4 linked regions of the Homo sapiens genome follow. The protein of the gene in region 1 interacts with the protein of each later gene in a pairwise test. Each region holds a gene or a part of one and is shown in the gene's direction. Other genes may lie near its edges.

Region 1 (6,380 bases):
ACGCGCCTGCAAGTGTGTTTCCTGAGTACAGGTGTCGCCGAGGGCGTGCACATCTGCTGTGTAGCTCTCTGGGACCCCCAGGTGCCATCAGGCCCTGAGCGTGGGCTCTGCTCATTTGCCTGCTGCCTCCTGCCGCTTGTGCGGACAAGGGACGGGGCCTGGGGTGATGCCGGGAGAGGGCAGGGCCTCTCCTCACCACCCCCTCTGCATGCCAGGTGCCTGCAGGCCCTGCAGCGACGCTGAGCTGCTCCTGGCCGCATGCACCAGCGACTTCGGTGAGTGTCCCCGCCATGGGGGGAGCCTGGAGCCTGCCTTCCCCTGAATGCCTACCGCAGCCACATGCCTCCCCACAGTAATTCACGGGATCATCCATGGGGTCACCCATGACGTGGAGCTGCAGGAGTCTGTCATCACTGTGGTGGCCGCCCGTGTCCTCCGCCAGACACCGCCGCTGTTCCAGGCGGGGCGATCCGGGGACCAGGGGCTGACCTCCATTCGTACCCCACTGCGCTGTGGCGTCCACCCGGGCCCAGGCACCTTCCTCTTCATGGGCTGGAGCCGCTTTGGGGAGGCCCGGCTGGGCTGTGCCCCACGATTCCAGGAGTTCCGCCGTGCCTACGAGGCTGCCCGTGCTGCCCACCTCCACCCCTGCGAGGTGGCGCTGCACTGAGGGGCTGGGTGCTGGGGAGGGGCTGGTAGGAGGGAGGGTGGGCCCACTGCTTTGGAGGTGATGGGACTATCAATAAGAACTCTGTTCACGCAAGCTGCTGTGGACCTGGTCTCCTGTGTCCAGCCCAGCCTTGGGCCTGCCTCGCAGCTGTGAGGATGGCTCCAATTCCTGCCTCCTGGCGGGAGACTGAGGCTCAGGGGAATGGTATCTTGTTCAAGACCATTTGGCAACTGAGAGGGAGAGCAGATGTCAGGAGGAGCTACACCCACATTCCGGGGAGGGGCCGCTGCTGGGTGGGGGGCACGTGGGGACCTGCACTCATGCAAGCTTCTGCTCTGCTGCACCCACCAGCCCCGTCCTTGCCCGCACCCTTGCCTGCTTCCCTGGCTGGCTCCCACTTGCCTCCCGTGCCAGGTGCTTCTGGGGCTCAGCAGGAGAGGAAAGGGGCAGAGGGGCATAGGGTCCCTCGGGTACGGTGGGGGCAGGCGGGCGCACAGCGCTCCGGCTCTGAGCCAGGCCTGTGAGGGAAGGGGCTGCAGGCTGGCAGGGTGCCGACTTCCCCCATGGCTGCTGTGAGCCCGCAGAGTCATCCTTGGCCCCGTCCCGCCCTTGGGGAAGAATGGGCCCCTCTGTCCTCAGGCCCCTTCGACGTGCTGAGCATCCAGACGTGGCGAGGAGCCCGAAGGGTGTGGGGTCCCCTCTGCAGGGTCCTGCTTGTTGCCTGTTTCCGGCGGGCGGGGTGCACAATGGGGTCTCTAAGGACCGTTTCCCGCCACTGGCCCCATTGTCACTGTCTCCGCCTTCCTCCTCGGCCTTTCAGCCGCATAAAGGGCCAGTGAGGTTTGGGACAGCCACAGCCCAAGGCTCCGAGGCTAAAAGCCCCTGGGTGGGGGTGTTCCAGGACACCTGGCCCTGTGTGAGCTGCCTCCTCTCACCCCAACCCCTCGGATCCTGGGAAAGAGACAGCCATGGCTCAAGGGCCAGGGACCCCTGGGCTGAGCCCCAGAAATGGCTTTCCATTCTCGCCTGGGCCGGGGTGGGGGTGGAGGCCAGAGGCCCTGCCCAGGCAGATGAAGCCCCCAGCTTTCAAGGGGGAAACTGAGGCTGTGTGAGGGACACAGCTGTGCAGGGCCCACAAACACGGTCCTTTCTCTAGGTTAGCGGATGCAGATGCCTGATGAGTGCCATGCCCTCTGTGGACACCTGGGGAGGGGGGTCACCTCCAGCGCCGCCCTGGGACTTCCACTGCACGTGCAAGAGACTTACCCTTTCACACAGATCACCTGCCTGCCGCAGGGCTGATGAGGATGGGTGAGGAGCGCAGCCACTGGGTGTCATGCACTGTGGGGGTTCTCCCACCTTCTGCCCCTCCTCAGGTTCCTTGCTGCTTCTCTCCTCTCCCAACTGTGGCACGCTGAGGGCTCAGGCACAGGACCGCTCCTCTGGGGCAGCCTCCAATAACCCTTGGACAACCTCCACTTTTTCATCTTCAGCCCTGACCACTCCCTGGGGCCCATAGCCTTACATCCATCTGCCCCCAGCCCAAACACTTCTGCAAACACTAGAAAAGGAGGTAGCCCGTGTGCCCTCCTGCACCGCCTCCTCCACTCCTGTCTTGGAGAGGCTTTCCCGTGGGCCGAGCAACCCCCTTACCTTTGGCACTTGCCCTGATTCTCTGGCCAGCTTCCTACAACCTCTCCTTTTCAGCCACACCCAAGTCCACCTGTTCACAAACACCCTGGGCTGGGCCCTGGCCGAACCCTGGCTTCTACCTACCTGTCTCAGGAAGTGCCTGAGCCTTGCACCTACAGACCCTCCCAGAGAAAGCCCTGGCTTTGCAACCAGCTGTCTTCTCATGAGACACAGGGCCACAGGAGCACCACGGTGCCCAAATGGGTCTTGGAGCATTAGACCAGGGGCTTCATGCCTGCCCTGGGGACAGGTGGCCAAAGTGGCATGGGAGATAGGGAGACAGTGTGGGTGAGCAGGTGGGCAGGAGCTACAGGAGCCTGGGGCCTGTGGATCACAGACACCGCCAGGCAAGTGCCAGTTCACACAGGTACAGGTGGCTGCAGAGTGCCCAAAGGCCAAGCAGCAGAGTGCCTGGTGTGGACGGGAGAGGAGTGGGGAGGTTGGGCGCAGTGGCTCACGCCTGTAATCCCAACACTTTGGGAGGCCCAGGCAAGCAGATCATGAGGTCAGGAGATGGAGACCATCCTGGCCAACATGGTGAAACCGTCTCTAATAAAACACAAAAAATTAGCCAGACATGGTGGCATGCATCTGTAATCCCAGCTACTCAAAAGGCTGAGGCAGAGGAATCACTTGAACCTGGAAGGCAGAGGTTGCAGTGAGCCAAGACTGCGCCACTGCACTCCAACCTGGGCGAAAGAGCGAGACTCAAGTCTCAAAAAAAAAAAAAAAAAAAAAAAAAAAAAAAAAAGAAGAGTGGAGAGTGCACGCTAGAGTCCAATTAGGTGCATTCATCCAGTAAGCCTCCTAGGTAACTGCTCTAGGTGCAGGGAATAATGCAGGCAGCAGGACAGGAATGGGCGCTGTCAGCTCCCCCTAGAGCTCAGTGTACATACACCCTTCCTTTCCTGGGAGGGCCGTTCCAGGCCCCCAGGAGACAGGACACGCTGAGCTGGGTGGGGCTGGGGCCAACGTGGGCAGGCCTGTGAGACTCTGCACTTGGGAGCTGGGGGCTGTGGTCTGCGGCATACCCATGTCTGGAAGCAGCCTCTGTCCCTGCAGGGGCTCTAGACCCCAGCCACGGATGGCTAAGGAGGAGCTAGGCCAGGGCACGCATAGACAACCCCCGACATTCACGGGTGTTCAGCCCTACCCTGGGTGTGGAGGTCGTGGCCCAGCTGCCTGACCCAGAGCTCGGCTCTTCCACTTGCGCTTCCCACCCCCAGCTTCACAAGGTCACCTCCAGGAACTCAGTCTTTTTGTGTGTTGTTTTCTGGAGAAGGAAGGTGATCTCCCCACTCCCGGGGCTGTCTGCCTTCCCTGTAGCTGGCAGGTGCCAGAGGCCCCCGCCTGTGACATCCGGCTTTCCTCCCACCACACTCGCCTGAGAGCCAGCATCTGTCTTCTTGGGCCTGCTCAAGCTCTCCTCCGTGTCAGCCCCTCCTCCATGCCCTTCTCCCTCAGACCCCACCCCCCATCCCTTCACCGCCCACTGGGGCTCATCGCTCAGGCTGTAGGAGGGAAATGGAAGGATGTCCTCCCGGGCTCTGGCTGGCGCTGGGTGTCCGAGTCAGCGGAGCGCCCCCAGCAGTCTCCCCGAGGCAGAGTCATGGGGGTGCTGGCGCCTGGACGCTGTCTCATCCCGGGGAGCCGCTTTCCCACCGGCTCCCTGGGCTCCAGCCGCCCCACGCGAGCCCCCGGCTGGTTCTGGGGCCAGGACCGCCCCTCTCCAAGGCAGACTTCCCTTCATTCCACGACAAAGACGCGCAGCCCCGTTTCCCTGGGGCTCTAGCCCGTGAGATCGCCGGGTGTATCCCGACTCCCGCCGGCACGTGCGCTCCCCCAGGGCAGGGCCTGCCTGTCCCCTTCCGCGGGTCGCCAGCAGCCAGCACAGGCCGCAAACGGCGGTCCGCAGAGCGGACCAACGGAGCCGACCCTCGCAGGCTTGGAGCCGGACGCGGCGGGGCAGAGCCCCCGAGGCTGCAGCTCGCCGGAACCCGCGGGAGGGCAGCCGGGCTGGGCGGAGCGCACAGCGCCACGGACCGACCGCGCAGGCTCTGCCGGCCACTTCCGGTGTCGCGCGGCGGCTCCCGGCAGGAGGCAGAGGGCACACCGCCAGCCCCAGGCCAGGCTGCGAGGGCCGCGGACCCGAGCCGGGAAGGACCTTGGGCGGACGAGCCGCGCGTCCCGCAGCCATGGAGCAGGACGACCCGGTCGAGGCGCTGACGGAGCTGCGCGAGCGGCGGCTGGGCGCGCTGGAGCTGCTGCAGGCGGCGGCCGGCTCGGGCTTGGCAGCCTACGCGGTGTGGGCGCTGCTGCTCCAGCCCGGCTTCCGGCGCGTGCCGCTGCGGCTGCAGGTGCGGGGCGGGGCCAGGCCGGGCAGGGGAGCTCGGCTGCCGCTCAGGGTCTCAAGGTCTGGGCGTGGCCGGGGTGAGCTCCGCCCCGCCGTGTGGTAGTTCGGGCCGGGCTGCGGGCGGGGCGGGAGCGGCCAGTGGACTCTCGCCGCCACCCGGTCCAGGTGCCCTACGTCGGCGCGAGCGCGCGGCAGGTGGAGCACGTGTTGTCGCTGCTGCGAGGACGCCCCGGAAAAACGGTGGATCTGGGCTCTGGCGACGGCAGGATCGTAAGTGCCTGCGTCTGGGTCTTCGCCGCCCCACACCGCCCACCTGCTGGCGGGCGCCCCTGCCCACATCCTGGTTCCCACACTCTCGGTGCCCACAGGTGCTGGCGGCCCACAGGTGCGGCCTCCGCCCGGCCGTGGGCTACGAGCTGAACCCCTGGCTGGTGGCGCTGGCGCGGCTGCACGCCTGGAGGGCCGGCTGTGCCGGCAGCGTCTGCTATCGCCGCAAGGATCTCTGGAAGGTAACCTGGGGATCCCTGGCCACCCGCTGACAGCCCAAGGTGCGGCTGACACCTGCGAGGGCTGGGGGCCGGGACTCGGAAGCTGCGATGACCCGGTGCCCACCAGGCCTCTCCCCGGCCGGGGCGACTTCTCTTCCGGCAGGTGAGCCTGAGGGACTGCCGCAACGTGTCTGTGTTCCTGGCCCCTAGCGTGGTAGGTGCGGGGTTGCCAGCCCCGCTGGGAAGCCCCAGCCACACCCCAGGGTGTTTGCTGCTCTGAGGCCTGGGCCTGCCTGGTGGGTGCTAGGCTTGGGGCTAGGGGGGTGAGCGCGGCTGTTTTCTACCGGCCCCGCCCCCGCCCCCTCTACTCTGCTGTTCTCTCCCTCAGCTCCCGCTGCTGGAGGACAAGCTGCGGACAGAGCTGCCTGCTGGGGCCCGCGTGGTGTCTGGGCGCTTCCCACTCCCCACCTGGCAGCCTGTGACCGCGGTTGGCGAGGGCCTGGACCGAGTATGGGCTTATGATGTTCCTGAGGGTGGGCAGGCTGGGGAGGCCGCCTCCTCGCGGATACCCATCCAGGCTGCCCCCGGACCTAGTTCTGCCCCCATCCCGGGGGGCCTTATTTCTCAGGCCAGCTGAGTATTAGACACGATAAAGACTCTGTGGGTTCTATCCTGACTCATGTTTTATGGGGGGCTGGGTGGGAGGGTTCTGTGCTGGCTGAGGAGCTCTGCTCTGCTCTGCTCCTTGGGAGACGGCCTAGTGGCTGCCGGTCCTTGGATGCTGGGGCTTGGCTGGAGGCACAGCCCCCACTTTCCAGGGGTCCCCTGCACCTGCCAGCTTCCTCAGCCTCAGGATTTCGTGCTTGTACCTGCTCAGAGGAACCATGCTTAAGTGACTTGCCCAGCTGTGGACAGGTCTGCTTTTAGCGCCTGAGGCAGCCATCATCCTTCATTCCAACCAGACCAGGGCCCTGGGGTCACACCCAGCTCCCTCTGCCCACCTGCCCAGGTGCTGGTCCACGTACTCCTGTAGCTCAGAAAGTTGCTCTTCAGCCATCGTGGCCCGGACCAGCAGCTGTGCCCGCTCCCGTTCCAGCTCTGCCTGGCATGGGGATGTAAGCCATGAGCTGGGGCATGGCGTGAGGATGGGCCTGGGCCAGCCCTTGCCTCCTACCTG
Region 2 (7,912 bases), on another chromosome or scaffold:
TAGGAGGCTGAGGTAGGATTGCTTGAGGTCAGGAGTTCAAGACCAGTCAGGACAACATAGGGAGACTCCATCTTTACAAAAAATAAAAAATTAGCTGGCCATGGTTAATCCTGGTTAGCACACCTGTAGTCCCAGCTACTTGGGAGGCTGAAGTGGGAGAATGACTTGAGTCTGGGAGGTCAAGGCTGCAGTGAGCCCACCACTGCACTCCAGCTTGGGCAACAGAGCGAGACTTTGTCTCAAACAAAGAAACAAACAAACAAACAGACAGACAAAACAGTGACTCTGAAATCAGAACTAGATTCCTAACCAGCTCTCTTATTTACTGGCTGTGAGCTTTAACCAAGCCATTTATGTGAAGATGTGGTATTTTTATCTGTGAAACGTGAATACTAATACAATACAAAGTACCTCATGCAGCTTAATAAAGAAGAACTACTTTTATTATTATAACTGTAATGAAACTATGTCCTTATTCTGTTGTATTCTGATAAGGATTTCCTTTTGAGATCATAAGCTCAGGGACTCATCTATGAGGAGGGGTGGTGTCTTCCATGAAGGGCTGGATATTTTTGATGATGATCATTCAGGGAAGGCATGTACCCTCAGTTAGGAAACTGAAATTAGACCAGAGAACTACCTCCCTCCCTCTCACTGTCCTGCATCTACAGCTCAAGGAATCCAGATACCCTTACAGGCCCTCCTGAATAGCAAGGTGGAAACAAGGAAGGGGCCACAAGCTGAAGATGATAAGCTGTACGGTGTAAACCAGATCGCATGTCATACAGGCAGCAGATTACAGCAGTGAAGGGTAGAAACCCTGAAGTCAGAACATCTCCCGTTGTGCATTTGAAGCATTAGAAAAGCAAACTCTCCTAGTGGAAGGTGAATTTCAGGACAGAAGGTGGGGTTTGGCGTCTGAGTGCTTCTGCCCAGGTGGAATGGGGCTTATTTCAGTAGATTTCCTTGCAAGTCCTTTAAACTTCTCGAAGCTTTCAGTTACATCTATTGCGCCTCGTGAAAACTCTAAAATAGGAAGTTTGGACATTGTTACTTCTATTTTTATGAGTTAATAAGTTTTAAAGAGATTACATGACTCGCCCAGGATCATGAGATTAGTAAATGGCAATGCCCAAGGAAAATCCAGTTTTTTTAAAAAAAAATTATTCCCAGTCCAGATTTCAATTATCTCCATATTAGGAAAGTAAACAGGGCATGAAGGATTTTTAAACTATCATTTTGCATTATTCCCACCACTTACCCTTTCCACTTCACTCACATCTTAGGTAACTGAGTCAACTGCATTCAAAAGAAACATTTTTGGGGGGAGAGGGGAGGGATAGCATTAGGAGATATACCGAATGTAAACGACGAGTTAATGGGTCCAGCACACCAACATGGCACATATATACATACGTAACAAACCTGCACGTTGTGCACATGTATCCTAGAACTTAAAGTATGATTAAAAAAAAGTAAAAATAAGTAAATAAATAAATTCCTTTAAACAAAAAGAAACATTTTCTGTGTTCCTCACGGACACATCACTGATGGCTGTCTGAACAGATTCAACTCACTATAAATTCAAGCATGCAAAAGGACATAACCTGTACATATCCACCTGGCTCCATAGAGTAATTAAGCAAATAAGTGTCATTGTCTAAAACTATGTGCTTGCTTTTCTGATTTAGCCCTAAGTTTATATATCCATGAGTGGGATCAAAAACGATTTTCCGATTCTAAATTTCTGAAAATCACGATGAGATGTTTAAGTGAAAAAATGCTTTGGCAGCATACAATATTACAAGTTACTCAAGTATTACAAGTTAACAAGTTACTCAAGCTATAGCTCAGAAGCCATATACATATATATGTGTATATATGTAGAGTATATATGTATATATACACATATATGTAGAGTATACATATACGTAGATGTATATATACTCTACATATATGTATACGTATACATATACGTATATGTATACGTATATGTATATATACATCTATCTATCTATCTATCTATATATATATATATATTTTTTAAGATGGAGTCTTGCTCTGTCACCCAGGCTGGAGTGCAATGCCATGATCTTGGCTCACTGCAACCTCTGCCTCCTGGGTTCAAGTGATTCTTCTGCCTCAGCCTCCTGAGTAGCTAGGACTACAGGCTTGCAGCACTATGCCCACCTAATGTTTGTACTTTTAGTAGAGACGGGGTTACACCATATTGGCCAGGTTGGTCTCGAACTCCTGGCCTCGTGATCTGCCCACCTCGGCCTCCCAAAGTGCTGGGTATACAGGCATGAGCCACCGTGCCCGGCCGCAAAATATATTCTGAGGAATAAAAATGATTGTAGTTAGTTTTCCACAGTCCAAAGCAAGCTAATAATATTTAAAGAGTTAAAAGTGTAATATAATCATCGGTCATGTTTCTACAACCAAAGAGAGTTGAAAGGAGTCAAATATCAGCATAATGCAGATAATGTACTCACTGGCATTGTGGGCCTTTATTATTTGGATAATCATTTTCACCTTGTGGAGACTTTTCCAGAATTATATACTTTTATGCCTAATCAGCAAATTAGGCAGTTGAAAAGTATGTATGAAGCAGCTAATATGTGCCCCAATTAGGCTAGGTAGTGTGGGTATATAAAAAGGGTTTATAAAGGGGGAGGCTCCTATTCAAACCTTAGTGGGGTCAGGAGATGCGGAAGTTAATTAACATATATTAAATATTTTTTTACTCACCCACACCTAGAGAAACAGTACTGTTTTAAATGTGCTGTAGGAGTTCAGAGAAATACTGATTAATGTGGTTTGGAATAAATTAAATAATAAAAAGCTTTGCTGAATACAGTTAGTTTAAAAAATATAAAAATATAGGGGGATTTGCAGAGAAATCTGTTCAACTCTTAAAATAATTTTTAATTTATATATGTTTATATAAGAATTCCATTTTATTAACATGAAATACTAGTACCTTTTTTTGGGGATGGAGTCTTGCTCTGTCATCTGGGCTGGAGTGCAGTGGCGGATCTCGGCTCACTGCAACCTCTGCCTCCTGGGTTCAAGCGATTCTTCTGTCTCAGCCTCCCGAGTAGCTGGGATTACAGGCGTGAGCCACCACATTCGGCTAATTTTTCTATTTTTAGTAGAGATGGGGTTTTACCATGTTGGCCAGGTGGGTCTTTAACTCATGACCTGAAGTGATCCACCCGCTTCAGCCTCCCAAAGTGCTGAGATTATGCGTGAGCCACCGCGCCTGGCCCAGTACTTTTACTGATGAAAAATGTAATGTAAAAGGAAGGTCTGTCTTACATACAATAAGTGCTGAATCTGGGTCTTTTTTAAAAAAAGTCATTGAGAAGACTTACTCCTTTCTTAAGTTTTAAGACATTTATTATTGCAAACAGAAAAATTGTACTAGATACCGGGGATATATAAACGAATAATGCCGTTTCTGTCTTCAAGATCTTACTGTTTGGTAGGTGGAAATAAAGTGAACGAACGAAGGCACTGCAAATCAATGTGGGAGGCTCTATAAGCATGGGGCCACAGAGGAAAAGGCTGAGAGGGAAAGCTTCAATGACTAGGTGACTTCAAAAAGGTCATCCTGGCCAGGCACAGTGGCTCACACCTGTAATCCCAGAACTTTGGGAGGGCCAGGCAGGCGGCAGATCGCTTGAGCTCAGGAGTTTGAGAGCAGCCTGGGCAACATGGGGAAACTCTGTCTCTACAAAAAATACAAAAACTAGCCAGACATGGTGGCGCGCGCCGCTCCTCCCAGCTACTTGGGAGGTTGCGGTGGGAGGGTCACTTGAGACCGGGAGGCGGAAGTTGCAGTGAGCAGAGATCACACCACTGCACTCCATCCTGGACGACAGAGCGAGACCCTGTCTCGAAAAACAAAAGACAAAAACAAAAACAAAGGTCATCCTGCAGGACAACCAGGAGGGCACAAATGTGTGTCTGTGGGAAGCTGAAATGTTGGCGGGGGAAAAAAGCAGGGAAAGGCATTCCAGAAAAAGGAAACTGTAAACAGCACACGAAAAAGCATAGTGAATGAATAGGAAGCCTGAGACCAAACTTAGGGTTTCCTACACTTATTTCAAAGCCCTTCATTATCTATATGGAAAGGGGGAGTCTTTAAACACAAATATTTAGATCATATTGACTGAGATTTAGATATAAATGAATGCTAATAATTACTTTTCGTTATTTTGGGGTGTTAAACATTTACTGTACAAGATTGTATTCGTTTTAAGTATCTTCTAACATGAGCCATTTTGTAATGATTCAGTTGTTTATATTCAATTTCAAGTAGAATGCTGATCACAGCGCCAAATGGGTATCTTCTACAGAAAAAGTTATTTTAATAAAGAAAAATATAGTCAGTTTTAGGATTTCCTGAGAGATTATAGAAACAATAAAAGCATTAAAACTGTTAAGTCATTAAATACGAGTACCTTGTATTTTGAAGGCTCTTAAAATTTAGTTTATAAATTGCTTTTACATAACATATGCACTGAAATACCACTTAAGATTAGTTTTGAAAATAGGTGTTCGTTTCAACCACATCATTAGGTATTTTATTCAAAGCTCTTTATAAAAAGAGCTTTACTATGTTCCAGTATAGTAAACTTATCCAGAAAATAAGACAAAAATTTAACTTCATGCTATAGCTGCAAAGTTTTCGGAAAGCGGGATTTAAAACTTCCATTGTAACTTTAACTAGCGGTCATGTCAAATTTCACAACTAAGAACATTTTAACGCATGTAATACTGAGCACAACATGGGCACGTTTTTGTTGCTATGAGAACCTTCTATTTTGTATTAGACATTGCAGCCTTGACGACGCAATGTTTGTGCTATTTTGCGCATGTTTTCCTGCAGCTATTCCTCTCCTCTAGCAATAGTCGAATGGCTCTGGTTTCCTCTTGCGCCCGGCCCAGTTTTTCCGTTTTAGCTTCGGTTGTCATAGGCTGTGCTGTCGCTTTCTCTGGGAAAGGACGGTGAAGACTGGACGGGAGAAACCGGGAGGGCAGGCGCGGCCGTTCTGCAGCAGCCGGGCCGCTTCCCGGCGGGAGGCGGGCTGCGAATGGGAAGCGGGAGGAGGAGGCCGGGCCGCGGGCTGGTTCTATCACCCCCTTGGGAGCCCAGCTCTTCACCTAGCTCTCCGGCGCTTTTCAAAATCTGCAGTTAACAACAAAAATCGAGCAACGCCACGTCGCACAAACAGGACAGGAGGGGGCGAGGGGTGTGTGCGCGCGCGTGCTGTCCCCAAATGGATGAGAAATAAGGGAAAGGAGGGGTTGGGGACCGTGTGATGAAGCAACATGCTAGGCCCGGGACAAGTCCGGCTCCGGCCTCGGGTCTGGAGGGACAAGGCCGGGGGCCGGGTGGCAGACGGGGCCTCTGGTCTTCCCCCAGCGCGAGGGTCGTGGCGCGAAACGGGGACAGGGCGCGCGCTCGGAGCCTCCTCCCCGCCCCGCCCCGCCCAAGGGTCTTCCTCCCCCGGGATTCAGAGCGGCCCCTCCTCCAGGCCAGGCTCGCCGCGGGGCGCTGAGCAGGCCGGGACACCGCGGCCGAGGTTATCGTTAGGCATCTCCCAGGCGACCGGCTCCGCAGCAAGATGGCGGACGAGAAGGACAGGGAAGGTAAGGTAGGGGAGCCGGGGAGCCGCTGCCCTCGCCGCCCGCCGCGACCCCGGGCTGCACGGGGAAGCGCCGGGTGGGGTGGGCCCTCGTCCATCTGGAGTTCCCACCCGCAGGGAAAGGGCGGCCTGAGGAGGGGGCCACCCGGCAGCAGCAGTCGCCCTGCCCCCGTCCCCGTAGCCCGCCCGGCCCGCCGCTCCGCCCCGCCCCGCCCCGCCTCTCTCCCCCGCCCCGCCCCGCCTCTCTCCCCTCTTCCCTCCCTCTTCTCTCTCCCCTCCTCCCGCCTTCTTCTTTCTCCTCCCGCCCTCTTCACCCTCTTCCCCTCCTCCCGCCCCGTCCTCCTTCCCCCTCCCTCGGAGGCCGGGCCTTGCATCCTGCGCGGGCTGCGCCGGAGGCGCCGGCAGGGGGTGCTGATAATGGCGTCGTTGTTCACGGTCGCGGGGAAGCCGCCGCCGCCTCCACACTCTCGCCTGGGGTCTCGGTGCCGCAGGCGCCACGCCCGTAGCTGTCCAGGCTGTGGGCCCCGGGGGGTGGCCTGGGTGAGGAGGAGTTCTGGCCGCCTGAATCTGACGGGATCCTCTGTTTGCGCCGAAACCCCGCGCTGGCGCAGCCTGATGGCGTTCGCGGCCACCATTTTGCCTCCTTAATGAGGACGCAGGAGGACGGTCTGGAGGTCACAGCCGCTGCCTCCGAGCTTCCCGGTCCTCCGAAATGCCTGCCCCGCCGCCGGCTAGCGCCGCGCAATTGGCCTAGTGTCTTGTCTTAAAAAAAAAAAAAGACACACACCCAAACAGCAATTTTAATAACGACGAAAAACCAAAACCTGGTTGAGATCTTGGAACCGCTGTGCGCCGGCCGGGCCTCTCCCAGGGGACCACCCAGCCCCGCGCGGTGGCCGCCTGCAGAGGCGGGACTGCGCTTCGAGGCTTAAGGTCGCCAGTTCGGAGGCATCGATGTGTTGTCTGTGCGGAGAAGCCAAAAAGTGATTACGTTTATTTGCAAGACCGTTCATGTTGTTTTCAGTTCATGGTATGATTAAAACCCGATCCTTTGTTACCATGCCCTTAGGTACTAAAAAATAATTGTGTTTGATAGTTGGCAGTCACCCAAAAATATCCAAAAAGCCATGAAACAGTAAAGGTAAACAAGTAGGAAGTGAAAATAATATTCGTCCTTTGTTTTCTTTCTGGAGTGCTCAAAACACCCTCTCAAACCATTTTTCTCAGCATAGAACCAAGTGTGGTCAGGTTAACAGCTAATATTTACAAGGGAAGAAACGAACCCTGAGATATTTAGTCACTTGTTCCGGTGATCACAGAAAATCGGCGAAGAAACACATGAAACTGCCAACGATCTCTCTATTGATAACAAGGATACCGTGATTTTTATGTAATATTAATCTGAGAAGCCAGGATTATTTTGTAGGTATTAGCTTTACGAAGATGCCCTTACATACAAAGAAAAGGATAATTTTAAAACTTTCCCAGAAAAATGGATGGCTTATTTTTGTTCTTTACCAAAAAAAAAAAAAAAAAAGCCATTAGGAGATAAACTAGCAAGGTAATTATGGATATTTATTTTCTTAAAAAAGACTTGGTTAGGTCAGCATGAGAAAAAACGCACTGGAGTATGGTACAAATACAGTATTTCTCGTTTTTTAAAAACTGAGAGCTTTCCTGATTTTTCAGCTTTTGAACAATTTTTTTCCATTTAAAGTAAATTCAGAGAAACAATTTTGTCGATAACTCATAGAAGTAATGACTGTTAAAAGCTGGATGCCATTCATTCAGAATACATATATTCAATGCCATTATGTAGATAAGGCATTCTACTTAGAACTTTGAAAGATACGAAAATGAAAGACATTGTCTTTGCTTCCAAGGAAGGTGAGATGAGTAAGGGAGATGAGAAATTTACAAATGGGAGGAAATAGTTAACTGGGCTGAGTAGTCTGGGTGCCAACCACTGTGCTAGGTGTGTATCCTTGTAGTCCGTGGACAGCAGCCTGGACATCACTGGCTGCCACCGACCTAATAATGAATCAGTCTTCATTTTAACATGTTTGTAGGTGATTTGTATGTACATTAACTTTCGAGAAGGCCGGGCGCGGTGGCTCACGCCTGCAATCCCAGCACTTTGGGAGGCTGAGGCGGGCGGATCACGAGGTCAAGAGATCGAGACCATCCTGGCCAACATGGTGAACCCCGTCTCTACTAAAAATACAAAAATTAGCTGGGCGTGGTGGCACGCCCTG
Region 3 (7,019 bases), on another chromosome or scaffold:
CTCGCGGGCTGGGGGAAGGCCCTTTGGCGTCTTCTGGGGGGAAGGGAGAGGGAAAGAGGGGAGCTGGACGCCCGGAAGGGCCCTGAGCAACTTGAGTCGCTGGCCTAGCCTCTTGTTTCCTCCCAACCCATCCCCACTGCCCTCCTCCAGTCTCCCTCCTCCTACAAGGGAGAGGTGGGTAGCATGCTGCCTGGGGCAAGGGGCAGGGGTGGGGGTGGCAGAGGTGGGAGGGATGTTTTCATCAGCAGAGCATAGCTCCTTTGGTCCTGGACCAGTTCCCAGAGGCAAAATAAATTCAGGACAGCGTCTGTTTAGTGTGGGTCTGCATGAGATGTGTGTGAGCACACACTGGGTGCGTGGTGGGTATCTGTGTGTGTACCCCTCCCCCCAGACCCTGTGTATGCTGATGTGGTGGTTCCGGGCAATTTGTGATCTATGTGGTGGTTCTGTGTTGGGTGTTTTGGGAATATGCACACATAAAAGACAGATGTGCATCATCTGTATGGTGCACACCTTTTCAGGTTATGGCCCTGTGTGGGGTAAACATGTCCATATGTATGGACATGTTTTTTGGGGGTATATATCTGGGCAGGAGTGGCTTTTTAATAGAAGTCCAGATGCTGGCTTGTAAAACACCATCTCATTTGGGATTCTCAAATGCGGGTTCCTGGACCATTTGCTTCAGAGTCACCTGGGGAATGTGTTAAAGATAAAGATCCTGGGCCGGGCGCGGTGACTTACGCCTGTAATCCCAGCACTTTGGGAGGCCGAGGCAGGTGGATCACCTGAGGTCAGGAGTTCAAGACCAGCCTGGCCAATGCGGCGAAACCCTGTCTCTACTAAAAATACAAAAAATTAGCCAGGTGTGGCGTGCGCGCCTGTAATCCCAGCTACTCGGGAGGCTGAGGCAGGAGAATTGCTTAAACCCGGGAGGCAGAGGTTGCGGTGAGCCAAGATCACGCCATTGCACTCCAGCCTGGGTGACAGCAAGACTCTGTAAAAAAAAAAAAAAAAAAAAATCCTGGCTGGACGCGGTGGCTTTGGGAGGCTGAAACAGGCAGATCACTTGAAGGCAGGAGTTCGAGACGAGCCTGGCTAACAGGGCAAAACCCCATCTCTACTAAAAATACAAATTTAGCCAGGCATGGTGGCGCAGGCCTGTAGTCCCAGCTATTTGGGAGGCTGAGGCAGAAGAATTGCTTGAGCCCAGGAGGTGGAGGTTGCAGTGAGCCGAGATTGCGCCACCTCACTCCAGCCTGGGCAATAGAGTGAGACTGTCTCAAAATTAAAAACATTCAGATCATCAGGCCCATTCCAGATTGACTAGTCAGAATCTGAGGGGTGGGGCCTGGGAATCCAGATTTTAACAGGTGCTTCAGGTGATCCTGGGGCAAGGCTGTGTTTGAGGACCACTGCCCTGGGTCAACCTCTTCATTTTTTCTTTTGAGGAAATAGACCCACAGAAGGTATGTAGTTTCTCTAAGGTGACAGGGCCATTAAGAGGAAGAACCAAGAGAAAACTCAAGGCTTCTAAGACCTGTCCAGGACTTTGTGCTCACCCATGTACCCCCTGTGTGTGTGTGTGCATGTGTGCTCATAACTACACTTTGTGATGACGTGGACCCGATTGGGCTGGTGCTAATTGGGGCTGATCTTTCCTCTGGGGTCCTGGCTTTCTTGTTTTCTGACCTTGTTCTTCTTGCTACATTCTGCTGCCTCCTTTTTGGAGAAATCCTGGAACTGTTGAGTGTCATCCCTAAAGGTCAATGTTGGCAACCAGGGAACCATGTTGCTGAGCCAGTCACTCAGCAATTCATCCATTCACTGGATCCTAGCTGAGCCTTGCAATGTTCTAGGCACTGGGTACAGATATGCAGTGAACACACAGGCACAACATCTGACCTCAGGGAACTTCCACTCTCGTGGAGAAGACAAACAGAACAAGTAGGCAAGTAAAGGAATGAGTATGTGTGACTAGTTACACACTGTGATAAGCCCTAAGAAGGAAATGAACTGGGCATGGCAATAAAGAATAACAAGGTGGGACTTCCTTTGATAGGGTGGCCAGGGGAGGACTGCCTAAGAAGGTGACATTGATGCCGTCTCCCACCTCCCCAGGTTGGAAGTGAGCCATCAGAGCCTCTGGAGCCGTGCTTGTGAACTCCCTGGATGCAGGTGGAGGCCCTGGGCTGACCAATGGCTAAGGGTTGGAGCTGAATTGCCAGCCTCTCACTTGGCATGGAAGATGGCAGTCTCCTCCCCTTAAGCAGCCCCAAAGGTTGGCAGAGGGGAGAGCAGAAGGGGGAGCTGCACAAGGCCAAGATCAAAGCCACTCCCTTGCTTGGGGAGCACCCTTTTTCTTCCATGGGGCTGAGTCCAGGGCCCTGTGGCCATACTGAATGTTGAGAAGGAGGCAGCATCTCCCCAGGAGCTCTCCTGTTTCACCTTCCTCCCACCTCCTTCCCTTCTCCGCCATCTCCCCAGTTGGGGAACTACTGTGCCAAGTCCCTTCCCTCTGGTCTAGCCTGCTGCCTCTGTGGCCACTTTACTTTACTTGGCTCAGGAATCACCAAAGAGAGGGGGTCAAGGCCTAGAGGGGACCTGGGCCCTGGAAGAGAGGACAGAACCAGAAAGGAAGGCTGGGGTTGGGACCAGAGAGGACAGGGCTCAAGGGAGGATGGAGGCTGGGACAGGAGAGGCACACGGGAAAAACCTGAGCCCAGATGGCCCTTTGGCTGGGCTCTCCAGAGTCTCTCCTGGGCCCTTGGAATCTGCTGCCCAAACTGGGGGAGACTCTGAGACCAGAGGGCCAGATGGGGCTGATTCAAGACACGGGCTCTACATCAGCTGGGAGGAAATGCCCCTGTCTGGTCCACCTGCAGCTCTACGCTTCACCCCTCTCAGGAGGTTAACTTTCACATCAGCAACTTGGGTGTCAGGTTCCGGCTCTAGGCCAGCAGGCCTCAGCCCCTCTCACCTCCAACCTCTTCTCCCAGGAAGGTTTTTCTGGGGACCCAGAGCTTCAGGCTGCAGGAAGGTGTTGCCTGGCCCTTGCCTTAGATTATTGAGTGTCAAAGGAGCCCTGACTCCAGGTCCGCTTTTCCCCCTGCACACTGCCAAGGCTGCCTTCCACCCTGGGCCTCTCTGGAGGCTGCTCAGTGCTCTTCCCGACTCCCAGGCCTTCCCGCCCAAGCTCCACAGCCCCCACAGCAGGATGGGGAGGGGACTTCTCCTCGTCAGGAAGGCCCTGGGCTAAGCTCACCATCCCCACCCTGTCTCCGCACCACTTCCTTTTTCCTCCATCTTGCCTGCAGGGATTGTAAACCCTGGTGGTCAGAAGCTTTGGGCCTATAGGGTCAGCCTCTCACCCTGGGGATCCGTAGGGGAACTCCAATCCCCTTCAGTTCAGCTTCCTCCCTGCAGGACCCATTCCAAGGAGCCTAGCTCTGGCTCCTGAGGTGACCCCAGCCCAGAAGTCCCATTCCCCTCTACCCCAACCCCCAGAATGGCAGGAGGAGCAGGGCAGTCTGGGAGTGACAGGTTCGGAAAGAGTCTGGGGTGGGGGAATTCGGCGATTGGGCTGTAACCGTCTTGTTTTGCTTGCCCCACAAACCTGCACGTCCGGGACGTCCGCTGCGCCCTCCCAGGCGCGTTCAGGTTATAGAACTGCTCTCAGAATGACAGGCTGGTGGCACCCGGCTGGGGCGGGGGGTGGGGAGGTGAAGGGGGGAGCCCCAGGCAAGGGGGAGCTGGAGGGTTAAAAATAGCAGCAGCCTTGTTTCGGTTAGCAAATGTGGAGGCGGGGAGCTGGAGGCGGGGCGGGCGGCGGACGATGTTTGCCCGCAGCGCAGGGCTGTGCTTCCCCTGGGTCCCGGGAGTGAGTCACGGCGGAGACGCTGAGGAGGTGCTGGCGCAGCACCCCACCCCCACCGGGCGAGGGGCTGAGCGCAGGCCTCGCCCCCCAGATTCCAGCGCTGAAGGAGGTGTGACTCTCCCTTCCAGGCAGCCGGGGCCGCCTTGAGAGTGAGCCAGGGGCATCGTGTGATAATAGGGAAGAAATGTGCCATTCTGACGCCAGAGATCTGGGTTTGAATCTTAGTCGAAAGGTGTGGGATCTTGAGTAAGGATGCTGATGGCTCTGAGACTCGATTTCCTAGTTTCAAGTGGGGCTTTTCTCTGTGCCCCACTTAGTGCTTAAAGCACTCTACAGATGTTAATTATCGCCTTAGACCCTACTGTATATATGGCAAAGCCTGGCAGGAGAGCTTCCTGTAAGGACGCAGAGGGAGGAATGGGATGGCCTTGGCTGAGTCTCGGTTTCTCCTGCAAGTGTGATTATGGGCACATTTTGCTCTGTGCCTCCACTTCTTCATCTGTAATGTGAAAATAATTACAGTTTCAACTTTATGGAGTTGCTATGAAGATTAAAGGAGATAATGTAAATAAAGTTAGCTCTGTGCCTGGTATGAAGTCAGGGCTCACTGAATATTCATCATCATTATTAATGTTATTGTTCATATTTTTTGAAGGTCAGGGATAGGGAATGTTGCAGACACGAAGAACAGAAACTGGGCCTAGCCCCAGTTCACAGAAAAAACCAGGCCAAATCCCTGTTCCAGATTCCTCCACCCATCGCGGCCTGGAACAGCCAGAGAGCTGTAGCCAGAAGTCATAGGGTGGACCCCTGCTTCTCTTGTTCACTCCCTCTCCCAGCCTCTCCCAGTGAGGCAGGGCGAGGAGGGACCCCAGGGCCTTGAAGCCAGCTGGCCCTGGAGAGGGGCTGCTGTGCCAGCTTGGGGAGGGTCTGGGATGGGGCTGCCCCTGATGGCCCTGATGTGGAGTACCTTGCCAGCATCTGCTGGGGTGAACTTTATTTTAGCCCTTCCCTTGTTGCTCTTATGAAGAACAGAGGAGGGGTGGGCAGGTCAGTGATGTCAGCAGTGAGTATTCCCAGCACAGCGGCTCTGGAAGAGGCATGAGGCATTTCTTTCAGGAAATGATCATTATTCAGCCAGAAGGCATTCATTAAGTAAGTCCTGACTTTGTGCCCAGCTCTGTGTTATAGGCCCTTGGCGAGACTCAGGAGGGGCAGAGGACGCTAGGTTGTAGATAACACGGAACCTCAGAGGATATATGGTCCAAGAAGACCCGGGGGCGGTGAAAACCCTGTGGACTAATGCTCACGGGAGCCCGAGGTCACACTTTGACTTTGCTACCATGGGCTGTGTCTATGTACGTATATATGCTGCGTAATTATTACAGAGGCAGTCCATGTGCATTGTGGATACTCAGACAGGACAGACCAGCAAAAACTAAAAAATAAAAAACATCACAGACGCATCAGTCAGAGATCACTGCACATCTTTCCATTTCCGTATGTGTCTTTATGTGTTGTAATTTTTATGAAAATGAGATTACTCTGCATATACTGTTTTTTCAGTCAGTGATTTCCACCTTCCATTACAGTAAATTTTCATCTTAACGGAATTCCCAGTTGGCCAGAAATTGTCCTTACAGCTGGTTTGTCCAAATCAGTACCCAGGACCATGCCATCTGTCTGTTGAGTGACCTGAAGGCAGTGTAAGCACCCTAGCTGGATTTGTGATCTGGAAAAACCCCTTCAACCAAGTCTCAAGGGCAGCCTGGCTGCAAAAGGGAATCAGGTCACGTGGAGAATCTGCCCACTAGACTTCTGCTGTCTTCCAAAGTAATAGGCAAAAGGAGGGGGATTCTAGGGCACCACTGGGATGGGACCTCTAGGGTATTTACTGTCATTAATGTTAATGTGGCATCCCTGTGAGTGTCAGGATTCACAGCTTGTGGCTATTCACATCCGAGATGCCTCAGTTCGGTTTGCCTGGTTCTTACTGAGTGCAGACCAGGGTCTCCATTGTGGCTTCTGCCTTCCTCTGCCCCAGATCCAGGGATGCTGATAGCCGTGCGGCTGTGTTCCTAGTCCCCAGAAAGTGGCCCTGAAGGTAGGTGCTCCCTTTTGCACTTGTGGGTGCTTCCAGCGCTTCCACCTGCCCAAGGCCTGCCCGTGAGTGAGAGACAGAGATAGAGATAGAGAGAGAGAGAGAGAGAGAGAGAGAGAGAGAGAGAGAGAGACCTTTTCCTCCCAAGAGAATTTACCCCCGAGTACCCACTCTGAGGGTGACTTGCTCTGGTTATGCAACCCGCATTTTGTAGAGGGCTTGACAGTTTCCAGAGAGCTCACGCAGCGTTTGATCCTCTGTGGCAGCCCTGGGAGGTTTGCTTGTTTAGTTATACCCTGCTGGAGGCAGCTAACAGGAAACACTGTAAAGTGTTTAAATGGTACACTTTAAAATGGTAAAATGTACATTTAAAAAGGAAGGGAAATAGAAGATGAAAAAGGAATTGAGGATGGCAGGGGTGGAACACAGCACACTTTGTGGGAACAGGCTGGCATTGGGAGCATACCCTAGGGCCTCACTGTGTCTTGCATCCCCTTGTCCCCTTGGTGGTCTCACCTCAGCCACTACTAGGAGGCAGGCTGAGTAAGCAGTCCACGCCAGTGTACCGATGCTAAGCTTAGGTTCTGGAGTCCCAGCAGCTCCACATACCATCTGTGTGACCTCAGCAAGTTTCTGAACCTCTCTTAGCCTTAGTTTCCTCATTTGCAAAATGAGAATAATAACAGTATATAGGCCGGGCGCAGTGGTTCACGCCTGTAATCCCAGCACTTTGGGAGGCCAGGGTGGGTGGATTCAGTGAGTTCAGGAGTTTGAGACCAGCCTGGCCAACATAGTGAAACACCGTCTCTACCAAAATACAAAAATTAGCTGGGCATGGTGGCTTGCACCTGTAATCCCAGCTACTTGGGAGGCTGAGGCAGGAGAATCACTTGAATCCGGGAGGCAGAGGTTGCAGTCAGCTGAGATTGTGCCACTGCACTCCAGTCTGGGTGACAGAGTGAAATTCTGTCTCAAAAACAAAACAAAACAAACAAACAAAAAAACAGTATCTGCCTTACAGAGTTGTGAGGACTACTTGCAATA
Region 4 (8,019 bases), on another chromosome or scaffold:
ATCAGTAAAGAGAACTTCCCTCCCGGAATAAAAATTAACCTTACAGAGTTTTTAAAGATATGCTTAATCCAAAATATTCCAAATCAAAACATTAAATAAAGTTACAGATAAGATTAAGGTTGGACTTATTTGCTTCTCTAGCAAGGCGTCAATTGTTCTAACTGTTGTAAGAAGACAAAAAGGATTTAAACCTGGCGATTTTAATACACAGATTAACACTTTGGACTTCTCAGTTCTGAGGAATTTGAAGTTATCTGTGCTAAGAAGCTATAACTTTCAAGGAAAAGAAAAAGAAACAGCTACACAAGCTCCTTAAGGAGTGTGGGCAAATTCACCTAGAGTCTGGGTTCATAAATTCTTGGTTCAAATTAAACACTCCCCATAAAGCCAATGCCCTTCAAATTAAGGGACTATAGTGGAATTCAATTATTCCTTTTAAATCTTAAATGTTACCTATAATAGCATTCCATGTTGGCTCAAAAAAAGAAAATGAAAAATAGAAAAGTAGCAGTTTTCAGAACTCTTGGGGCTGCTTCAATAAGAAAGAGGTGATTAAAAACAGACTCTTAAATTTGAGAGGCCCGATTCCCCCTTCCACTGGTCCCCACCCGCTTGGTCCCCTCCTTTTCACCTCTTTTTTATGCAGTACCCCCACCCCCACTCCAGAGCTAAGTAGCTGATTTGGGATTCTGAAGAAATAGGTTTCACCATCCATATTTGTTCTGGGGCACTTGTAAAATGCGATTTGTAGAGGGTCTTTAGCCTTCTGATTGTCTTTGAATTGTTTTTACTGAAACAGATCTTTTGCAGTTAATGAGTCCCCACGCAGCTGGACAGCTCCTCTCGGACACTGAGAACTCTAACCCCAAAATGACCCCAATTTGACACCGCAAGATGAAATTTTACCGCCTGTTAAAACCATTTCCAGCCTGGGCAGAAGGAGCTGACTGTTGACGGAGGTGTGTGCCACCTCCTGCGACCCCCATTTCGTGCCTGTCTCCCGGGCCTGCCCCACCTACTTTCCTTTCACCCCAAATATGGGAGAGCAGATGAGCCTGGAAGCCTGGGTGGGAGTGCCAACGCTGACAATGGGGCATTAGCAAAATGCCACCAGGATGGAAATCAGTAAGTGCGGGTACCCTACTCCTTTGGAATCGCTTCTATTGGACTGGAAAATTGGGGATGAGGGAAACCAGGAAATTCTTATATGTTAGATGAGCCTTTTTCAGCTCTATTAATAAAACACCCGCAAGTTGCTGATTAAAGGTAATAGTGTTTTGAATTCAGCAGACTGACCAAGAACCAATACCTTGAATCGACTCCAACTTGATCTCCTCATGTGTAATCCACTACACTAGGACTGCTATTTTAAACTAACAGTTTCATAAGTGACATGCAACTAGATCAGTAAGATCTCTTTCGTTCAAAGAAATTCTGGGTTCTCCCCTGAGACAACTGGCAAATTTTAAAAAGACATAGATTTCCTCCAGTAGGAATGCACTTTCAACACTCTCACACTTTTTTAACTAAAAGTCGTTGAAGTTAAATATGACTTTTTGACAATATCTTAAAATGTCATATTTCTCTCTCCCTCCTACACCTAACCATATTGTTCCTGTTGTTTGCTTTAATGTATTCAATAAAATGCAAAAGAAGTTAAGAATATGAAAGAGAGAGACAGAGAAAGGCGTTAAGGTTAAAAATGCCTTCTGCATCTGATAAAAACACATGAAAATAAAGTTTAAACTTTTCTTTTTTTGTAAAACCCAAGATTATCACCAGATAATCAACTCATTATTAGCTTACAATTGTTTGAAAACATAGAAATCGGCCGGGTGCGATGGCTCACGCCTGTAATTCGAGCACTTTGAGAGGCCGCGGCGGGTGGATCAGGAGGTCAGGAGTTCGAGACCAGCCTGGCCAATATGGTGAAACCCCCGTCTCTATTAAAGACACAAAAAATTAGCCGGGCGTGGTGGCGCGCCCCTGTAATCCCAGCTACTCAAGAGGCTGAGGCAGGAGAATCGCTTGAACCCGGGAGGCGGAGGTTGCAGTGAGCCGAGATCGCGCCATTGCACTCCAGCCTGGGCGACAAAGCGAGACTCCGTCTCAAAAAAAAAGAAAAAAAAAGAAAAGAAAAGAAAAAAAGAAAAAGAAGATAAAGAAAGAAAAGAAAATATAGAAATCATCAATCTGTCTGAGTTGTTTTTACTCACACTGCAAGGGAAGGAATATTTTTCTAAAAATGCGACTTAAGTTTTTCTAAATGAAAGCTATAGAGATGCTAACTCACTTTACAGTATCACTATAAAAACAGAAAAAGAAACAGAAGGTAGCAATGTTGAATGTTTAAACCCTGCAAGGCAGAGGTTCCGCATGAAGTTGATCTTTACAAAAAAAGGTTTATCAAGGACACTGAGGAATTTCTTTTAAAAAGAAACGTAACTGGCACTTATTGAACAAGACATTTAAAACAACAATAATCCTATTGGCGACGATAAACTTAAATTCTTAAATTGAATTTAAGAATAATTAGAAGAGTAAAAACTGAGTACAAATTTCTCAGCCAGCGGCGCTGCACCGGGAACTTGGACCCACCAACATCAACAGCTTTGCAAAGTCGAAAACGCTCCGCAGCGTTTTTGTTTTTTTCCCCTCCCCACCCCGCCGCACTCTCAAACCTCCCGGTCCCGGCTAAACTGAATTCGCGTAACTGTCGATTGAAATAAAATTCTGGAGACCAACTTTTTCTTTTCTCTTTCATCTTCTTTTCTTTTTTACTCACCTTCTCTTAAATGTCGACGAGCAACTCAGCAACAAATAAGGATACTTTTAATCTTGGAGTTCTTCTAGGAAAAAAAAGAGGACGTGGAGGAAGTACCCTCCCCCCAACCTTCAGATTTCCTACCCGTCGGCTCTAGCAGGCTTGAAGCCCGGCAAAAAAGAGTGGCTGAAAACCTGGGCTACACTCTCCTCCCTGAAGCTCCGTGAGTCTGGCCGTCCCTGCTCGGGCCATTGGGCAGAAACCTCGCGGCCCGCAGCCCCTCTCCCTGGCGTCGCGCTATCCGCGCCTCTGCCAGCCCCTTCGCACTATCTTTCTTTATATGTGAGGGCCGATTTCCCGCAGACATCATTGTTATGATGGCTCATTTAATCAAACTGTTTAATTGCTCTGGTAATCACTATCATCATCACAGGTGCTCAATCATTCATCATTTTTGGAGGGCTTTATTGACCTCCGGAGTTCATTCCTCAGCCCTATTAAAACGAGGCCAAATTTCTCCGACTCCGCTTGGAGTCTCTGCAGGCTGCAATCTTAGCCTAGTTTCTGTTGCTCGAAAGCTTACAGTGAAGCAGGGAACATGGAACGGGGGCCAAAAAAAAGAGCCCTCCCACCCGCCCTCCTCCCCGCTCTCTCTCGCTCTCTCTCTCTCTCTCTCACACACAACACACACACAGAGTACTTTATTCTCTCTAATCAACCTCCCCCATCCCACCCTCCCTCCGCGGGAAAGTCGGTTAGACGCGGCTCGCGGAAGACACTACTCTCCACTTCTCAGAATGGGTTCAAAGTTGGGGAGGGATGCGGCTGTTGGAGAACAACAGTCCGCTTTCCACTCTCTGGGCCAGGGACTGGGAGGGCGAGAGCGAGAAGTTGGGGAGAGGACGCGCTTCCAGCGCCTGTCCGCCCGGCCGCGCCACAAGGGGCCGAGGGGCATGGGGGCTGCTGGGCGGCAAGGCTTGCGCGGGGTGACCGTGGCTCCGCCCCCAACTCCGGGCTCGTAGTGATTGACGCGCGGCCGCCGGGAAACCAGCCGCGCAGAGGTGAAGCCTGGTGCAGCTCGGGCCAGGGAGGACAGGGCACCGGCCACAACTAGTTTCCACCCAAACGGTGTGGGGTAGTTCCCTTCGTTTCCTTTTCCTTTTTGGAAAAGTTCTTTCGGAGCTGGCCCCATCTCCCTGACCCCGCGAAATCGCCCCTGTGTAATTAACACAGCCATTAGCAGGCGTTACCGCGGCCCGCCGCTGCGCCTCGGGCGACCACAACAAAGCTGGGCTGTGAGCGCCGGCCACTCCTCCTCGCCCGGCAACTTCTTTCTCCCCCACTCTCTCCGTCTTTTCCTCCTGTGCTTCCCAGCTCTGAGTGAGATCCACTTTGGAGACGCACACTAGTCGCGCGCGCGCACGGGCGCGCGGGCGCGCGCGCGCACACACACACACACACACACACACACACACACACACACACGCCTTTGGCTACATCGGACCCAGATGACTGCCTCCTCACTTCCTCCCTCCCGATTCCGCCGCGGCCCCCAAAGACTCTCGGGGTGGCCCCTTGTCCGCACCGCTTGGAGGGAGTGTGCTCTGAGTTAAGCTGGTCTCTTCTGGTCCTGGAAAAAAATGAGTATTGACAAGGTTGCTGGATCTGCGCAGAAAAGAAAGTGCCACTTAATAAAAAATTTAGCCCGGCAGTGGTACCGTCTGCAGAGCTTGCTGCCCTTGGACGTTAGCAGGAAGCCTTCGGGGTGCTGTAATCGGCGGGCAGAGGAGAGGGAGGCCGCGGAATTAAAAGGAACAAAAGCTAGAGCGCCATGCCAAACGTCCCCGGCAAGACCCAGTTAGGCAGGAGCCGGGAGTGATGGGAAAATGAACTAGAAGTAAGTTTTTTTTTTTTTTTAAATGAAAAGATCTGAGGCGGTACCGTACTTTCCCTGTGGTTTTCTGCAGTTTTCCTCTCTGCGCTCTCCCTGTCCTCTTCTCTCTCCCCCTCTCCCTCTCTCCCTGTTCGCGCGCGCGCGCGCGCAACACACACGCGCGCACGCACACACATACACACACACTCACACACACAGACACACTCTCCTTTTCCTCCCCCCCGCCGTCCCCCATCCCCGTGGAGGAGCAGGCTTGCTGATTTGCTCGGGTCCGCCCGGCTCGAGCCTCCCCTCCCCCTCCCGCCCCCCCGCCTCCCCCACCCCCCCAGCCGGGGCTGTCCGATCGCACTCGTTGCATATCAGAGGCTCGGCGCGGCGCGCTCCTCCTCGCTCCCGCTCCCCACTCCCGGGATGTGTCTCCGCCGTACGACGGGCTATGGCCACCACGACTTCCGGGTTCCGTCATTTCGTTCTCCCGCCGCCGACCCGCGCCGCCAAACTGAGGCTCTTCAATAAGCCAGGCAGCAGCCAACCTGCCAACACCTACTGACACTCACTCATCTCCCAGAGAGAGAAAGAGAGCGAGAGAGAGCGAGCGCGAGAGAGCGAGCGCGAGTGAGAGCGAGCGAGCGAGCGAGAAAGAGAGAGAGGGAGAGACAAAATACCTACCAGGAAAGGGGGGGAGGAAGTCCAATTTTTGCAAACTATTCATTTTTTTTTCTTGATTTTTCTCACTGCTTTCTTTGAACAATACTTTAAAGAGAGAGGATCGTATTATAGATACCGCGGGGGCAAAGCTAAAAAAGGGGGGAGGGGGGAGGAAAAAATTCAAGAAGCAGAAACCCCTCGCGGAGTTTTACTGGAAGAAAAAAACGGGTCTGAAAGATTCCTCCTCTTCATCATCATCAACCATCATTCATTCACTACCTTGACATTCCGGGCTTTGATTGACAGCTGGAGTGGCAAAAAGCCATGAAACACGACAGTTCGGTTACATGTGGGCTGCTGACGGGCCGCTCGTAACCTTCAGTTCGGGGGCTTGACAATTTTTTTCTTCTTTTTCTTCTTTTTCTTTTCTTTCTTTTTTTTTCCAACTGAGGGGAAGAGAAGAGAAAGAGGGGGAAAGGAGGACCGAAGAGGAGGAGGAGGGGAGGGGGGAGGAGGAGGAGGTGGAGGAGGAGGAGGAAGATCAGGAGGAGGAGGAAGAAGAGGAAAAAAGAGAAAAAGAAGAAATATCACAGAAAAAAAAATTCTTCGTTGTCTAGACTGGGCTTTTTTTCCCCCCTAAAAAATAGCATATTGGAGAATTGGGAGAAGTCTCTTTGGTTTGGAAAAAAAAAAAAGGAATCTTCAGCCTAGATCACTTTCTTATCCGGACTGGGATATTAAATATACGACACATCCAGGAGTTTATTGGAGCGCAGACTGATGGCGCAAAGGGTAGGTTTAAATCTCCAACACTTACCTAGATATAAATCCTCTCCTAAGAGGGGCCTGTCCCGATGCCTCCTCTCCCTTCAACGCTTCTGCTGCTGCTCGCTGCTTGATGATGGCGGCCAGTATTTTAAAAAATAGCAAAATTATTCATCGGCTTCTTTCCCTCCCGTGCCTCTGCGTGTGTGCGAGTGTGTGTGCGTGCGTGTGTGCGTGTCTGGGCGCGCGTGTTCCAGCGCTGTGCGAGCGGGCGGGCGGCGAGTGCGTGTGAGTGGTGTGTGTGTGTGCGTGTGCAATCGTTACACGCTTTCGCCTCGCTCCAGCTTTTACCCCAGCAGCGCGATTCCCCCGGTTCTCCTGCTGCCGCTGCTGCGCCGCTGCCGCCGTGGCTCGCGCGGCTCGGGGCGGGCACGGGCTGCGTAGGAGCCGCCGCCGGGGCCGCCGCTGGGGCCGCGCTGCCGCAGCCGCTGCGCCGCCGCCTAGACTACTAGCCTGGGCTGCTTGTTTTGTCTCTGAAATTGACAAGGACGCAGGGAATCCGCTGCTAAATAATGTTTCTGGTAACTTTCACGTTATTCGCCCCCCCACCCTCCGCTCCCTGCCCCCGGGGAGGCACTGGCCCTAGTCTTTCCTAGTCCTCGGCGTTCTCGTGCTGATTATTAGCGTTTTTCTTCTCTTTATTTTGTTTCATTTCGCCTTTTGATTTATTGGATCCTCAGAGGAGGCGAAGGGGGGTTAGGGGTGGGATCCGGGGCTTCCTCCTCACACTAACTCCACTTCTCCCTCCGTTGGCTCGCTACGGTTCTGTTGCCTCCGGCGGGAGCGGGGCCTCCCGGCGCCCCCTCAAATCCCCGGCCTCGCCGCCTCCTCTTCCTTCTCTAAACGTTGCTCTTGGTTCATGCTTTTTCATTTTTAAATTTAATAACATTTTTTCCTCACAACTTTTAACTCCGTTGTTTTGGCTGGTTTGGTTTCTGTGTGCTCAACTTGTGCTCGGTACTTTTCTCCTTTCTGACTTTGTTTTTATTTTTATTTTCTCTCTCTCTCTCTCTCTCTCTCTCTCTCTCTCTCTCTCTCTCTCCCCCTCTCCTCCTTTTCCTCCTCCTCCTCTCTTCTCTCTTACCTCCCTCCCTCTCTCTCATCTTTATCCCTTCCTCTCTTTTCTGTTCGCCCTCTTCTCCCTGCTCTTTTTCCCTTTCCACCCCCCTCCTCTGTTCTCCCTCACCTCCTGCGCCCCCTCCCCCTTCCCGGGTTCTGACAGTACGATGAGCTGCCCCATTACGGCGGGATGGACGGAGTAGGGGTTCCCGCTTCCATGTACGGAGACCCTCACGCGCCGCGGCCGATCCCCCCGGTTCACCACCTGAACCACGGGCCGCCGCTCCACGCCACACAGCACTACGGCGCGCACGCCCCGCACCCCAATGTCATGCCGGCCAGTATGGGATCCGCTGTCAACGACGCCTTGAAGCGGGACAAGGACGCGATCTATGGGTAAACTGACCCCCCGGACCCAGCTTACTGTGTGTGAGTGTGAGAGTGTGTGTTTGTCTCTGTGGGGGTGGGAAGGTGGACGACTAAGTGGGGAGTTACTTCTGTATGGTGGGGGGCGGGCGCCGCTTGCCTTAGGAAGGGACCGTGGAGGGGGCCTGCTCTTCTGCCCCTGGAGTCAAAGCCCCGAAGAACTAGCCTCTTTCGCTCTCACAGCCCGACCACTCCAGACCCCACAGCCTGGAGTGACTGAGTCCCCAGAATCTTGCCGGGGCCTTCTCCCCGAGGACAGGATTCCTGGCCAAAGGACGCAGGACTGCTCGTTTCAGGCTCCCTAACAGAGGCCTTGACGAAGGAGAAAGTTTCCTGCCGATGAGAAGCAACTTTGGGTTTTTTTATTTTTTACTTTTTTTTCTTCTGTTTCCTACTGAGGGTC

The links.
Region 2: the proteins of ANTKMT (region 1) and DRC8 interact in binary tests that used the Homo sapiens proteins (3 or more experiments, as listed by UniProt).
Region 3: the proteins of ANTKMT (region 1) and HDAC7 interact in binary tests that used the Homo sapiens proteins (3 or more experiments, as listed by UniProt).
Region 4: the proteins of ANTKMT (region 1) and MEIS2 interact in binary tests that used the Homo sapiens proteins (3 or more experiments, as listed by UniProt).

Annotation. Positions count from the first base shown.
Region 1 is NC_000016.10:716,718-723,097, forward strand, and holds ANTKMT (adenine nucleotide translocase lysine N-methyltransferase), read left to right. Parts: upstream 1-4,428; 5' UTR 4,429-4,557; coding exon 4,558-4,719; intron 4,720-4,880; coding exon 4,881-4,985; intron 4,986-5,083; coding exon 5,084-5,224; intron 5,225-5,366; coding exon 5,367-5,417; intron 5,418-5,591; coding exon 5,592-5,840; 3' UTR 5,841-5,873; downstream 5,874-6,380. Other genes in the region: METRN (meteorin precursor), read left to right, coding at 216-275, 354-670; CCDC78 (coiled-coil domain-containing protein 78), read right to left, coding at 5,961-6,072, 6,205-6,380.
Region 2 is NC_000001.11:244,964,783-244,972,694, forward strand, and holds the start of DRC8 (dynein regulatory complex protein 8), read left to right. Parts: upstream 1-4,899; 5' UTR 4,900-5,203; coding exon of another isoform or gene 5,204-5,470; intron 5,471-5,472; coding exon of another isoform or gene 5,473-5,542; intron 5,543-5,543; coding exon of another isoform or gene 5,544-5,636; coding exon 5,637-5,661; coding exon of another isoform or gene 5,662-5,755; exon of another isoform or gene 5,756-5,788; intron 5,789-6,029; exon of another isoform or gene 6,030-6,087; intron 6,088-7,726; exon of another isoform or gene 7,727-7,912. UniProt on the Homo sapiens protein: Component of the nexin-dynein regulatory complex (N-DRC), a key regulator of ciliary/flagellar motility which maintains the alignment and integrity of the distal axoneme and regulates microtubule sliding in motile axonemes.
Region 3 is NC_000012.12:47,809,894-47,816,912, reverse strand, and holds part of HDAC7 (histone deacetylase 7), read left to right. Parts: intron 1-1,259; exon of another isoform or gene 1,260-2,238; coding exon of another isoform or gene 2,239-2,278; exon of another isoform or gene 2,279-3,832; coding exon of another isoform or gene 3,833-3,983; intron 3,984-5,959; exon of another isoform or gene 5,960-5,978; intron 5,979-7,019. UniProt on the Homo sapiens protein: Responsible for the deacetylation of lysine residues on the N-terminal part of the core histones (H2A, H2B, H3 and H4).
Region 4 is NC_000015.10:37,097,534-37,105,552, reverse strand, and holds the start of MEIS2 (homeobox protein Meis2), read left to right. Parts: upstream 1-5,003; 5' UTR 5,004-6,086; coding exon 6,087-6,098; intron 6,099-6,123; exon of another isoform or gene 6,124-6,305; intron 6,306-6,446; exon of another isoform or gene 6,447-6,652; intron 6,653-6,856; exon of another isoform or gene 6,857-7,353; coding exon 7,354-7,586; intron 7,587-8,019. UniProt on the Homo sapiens protein: Involved in transcriptional regulation. Binds to HOX or PBX proteins to form dimers, or to a DNA-bound dimer of PBX and HOX proteins and thought to have a role in stabilization of the homeoprotein-DNA complex.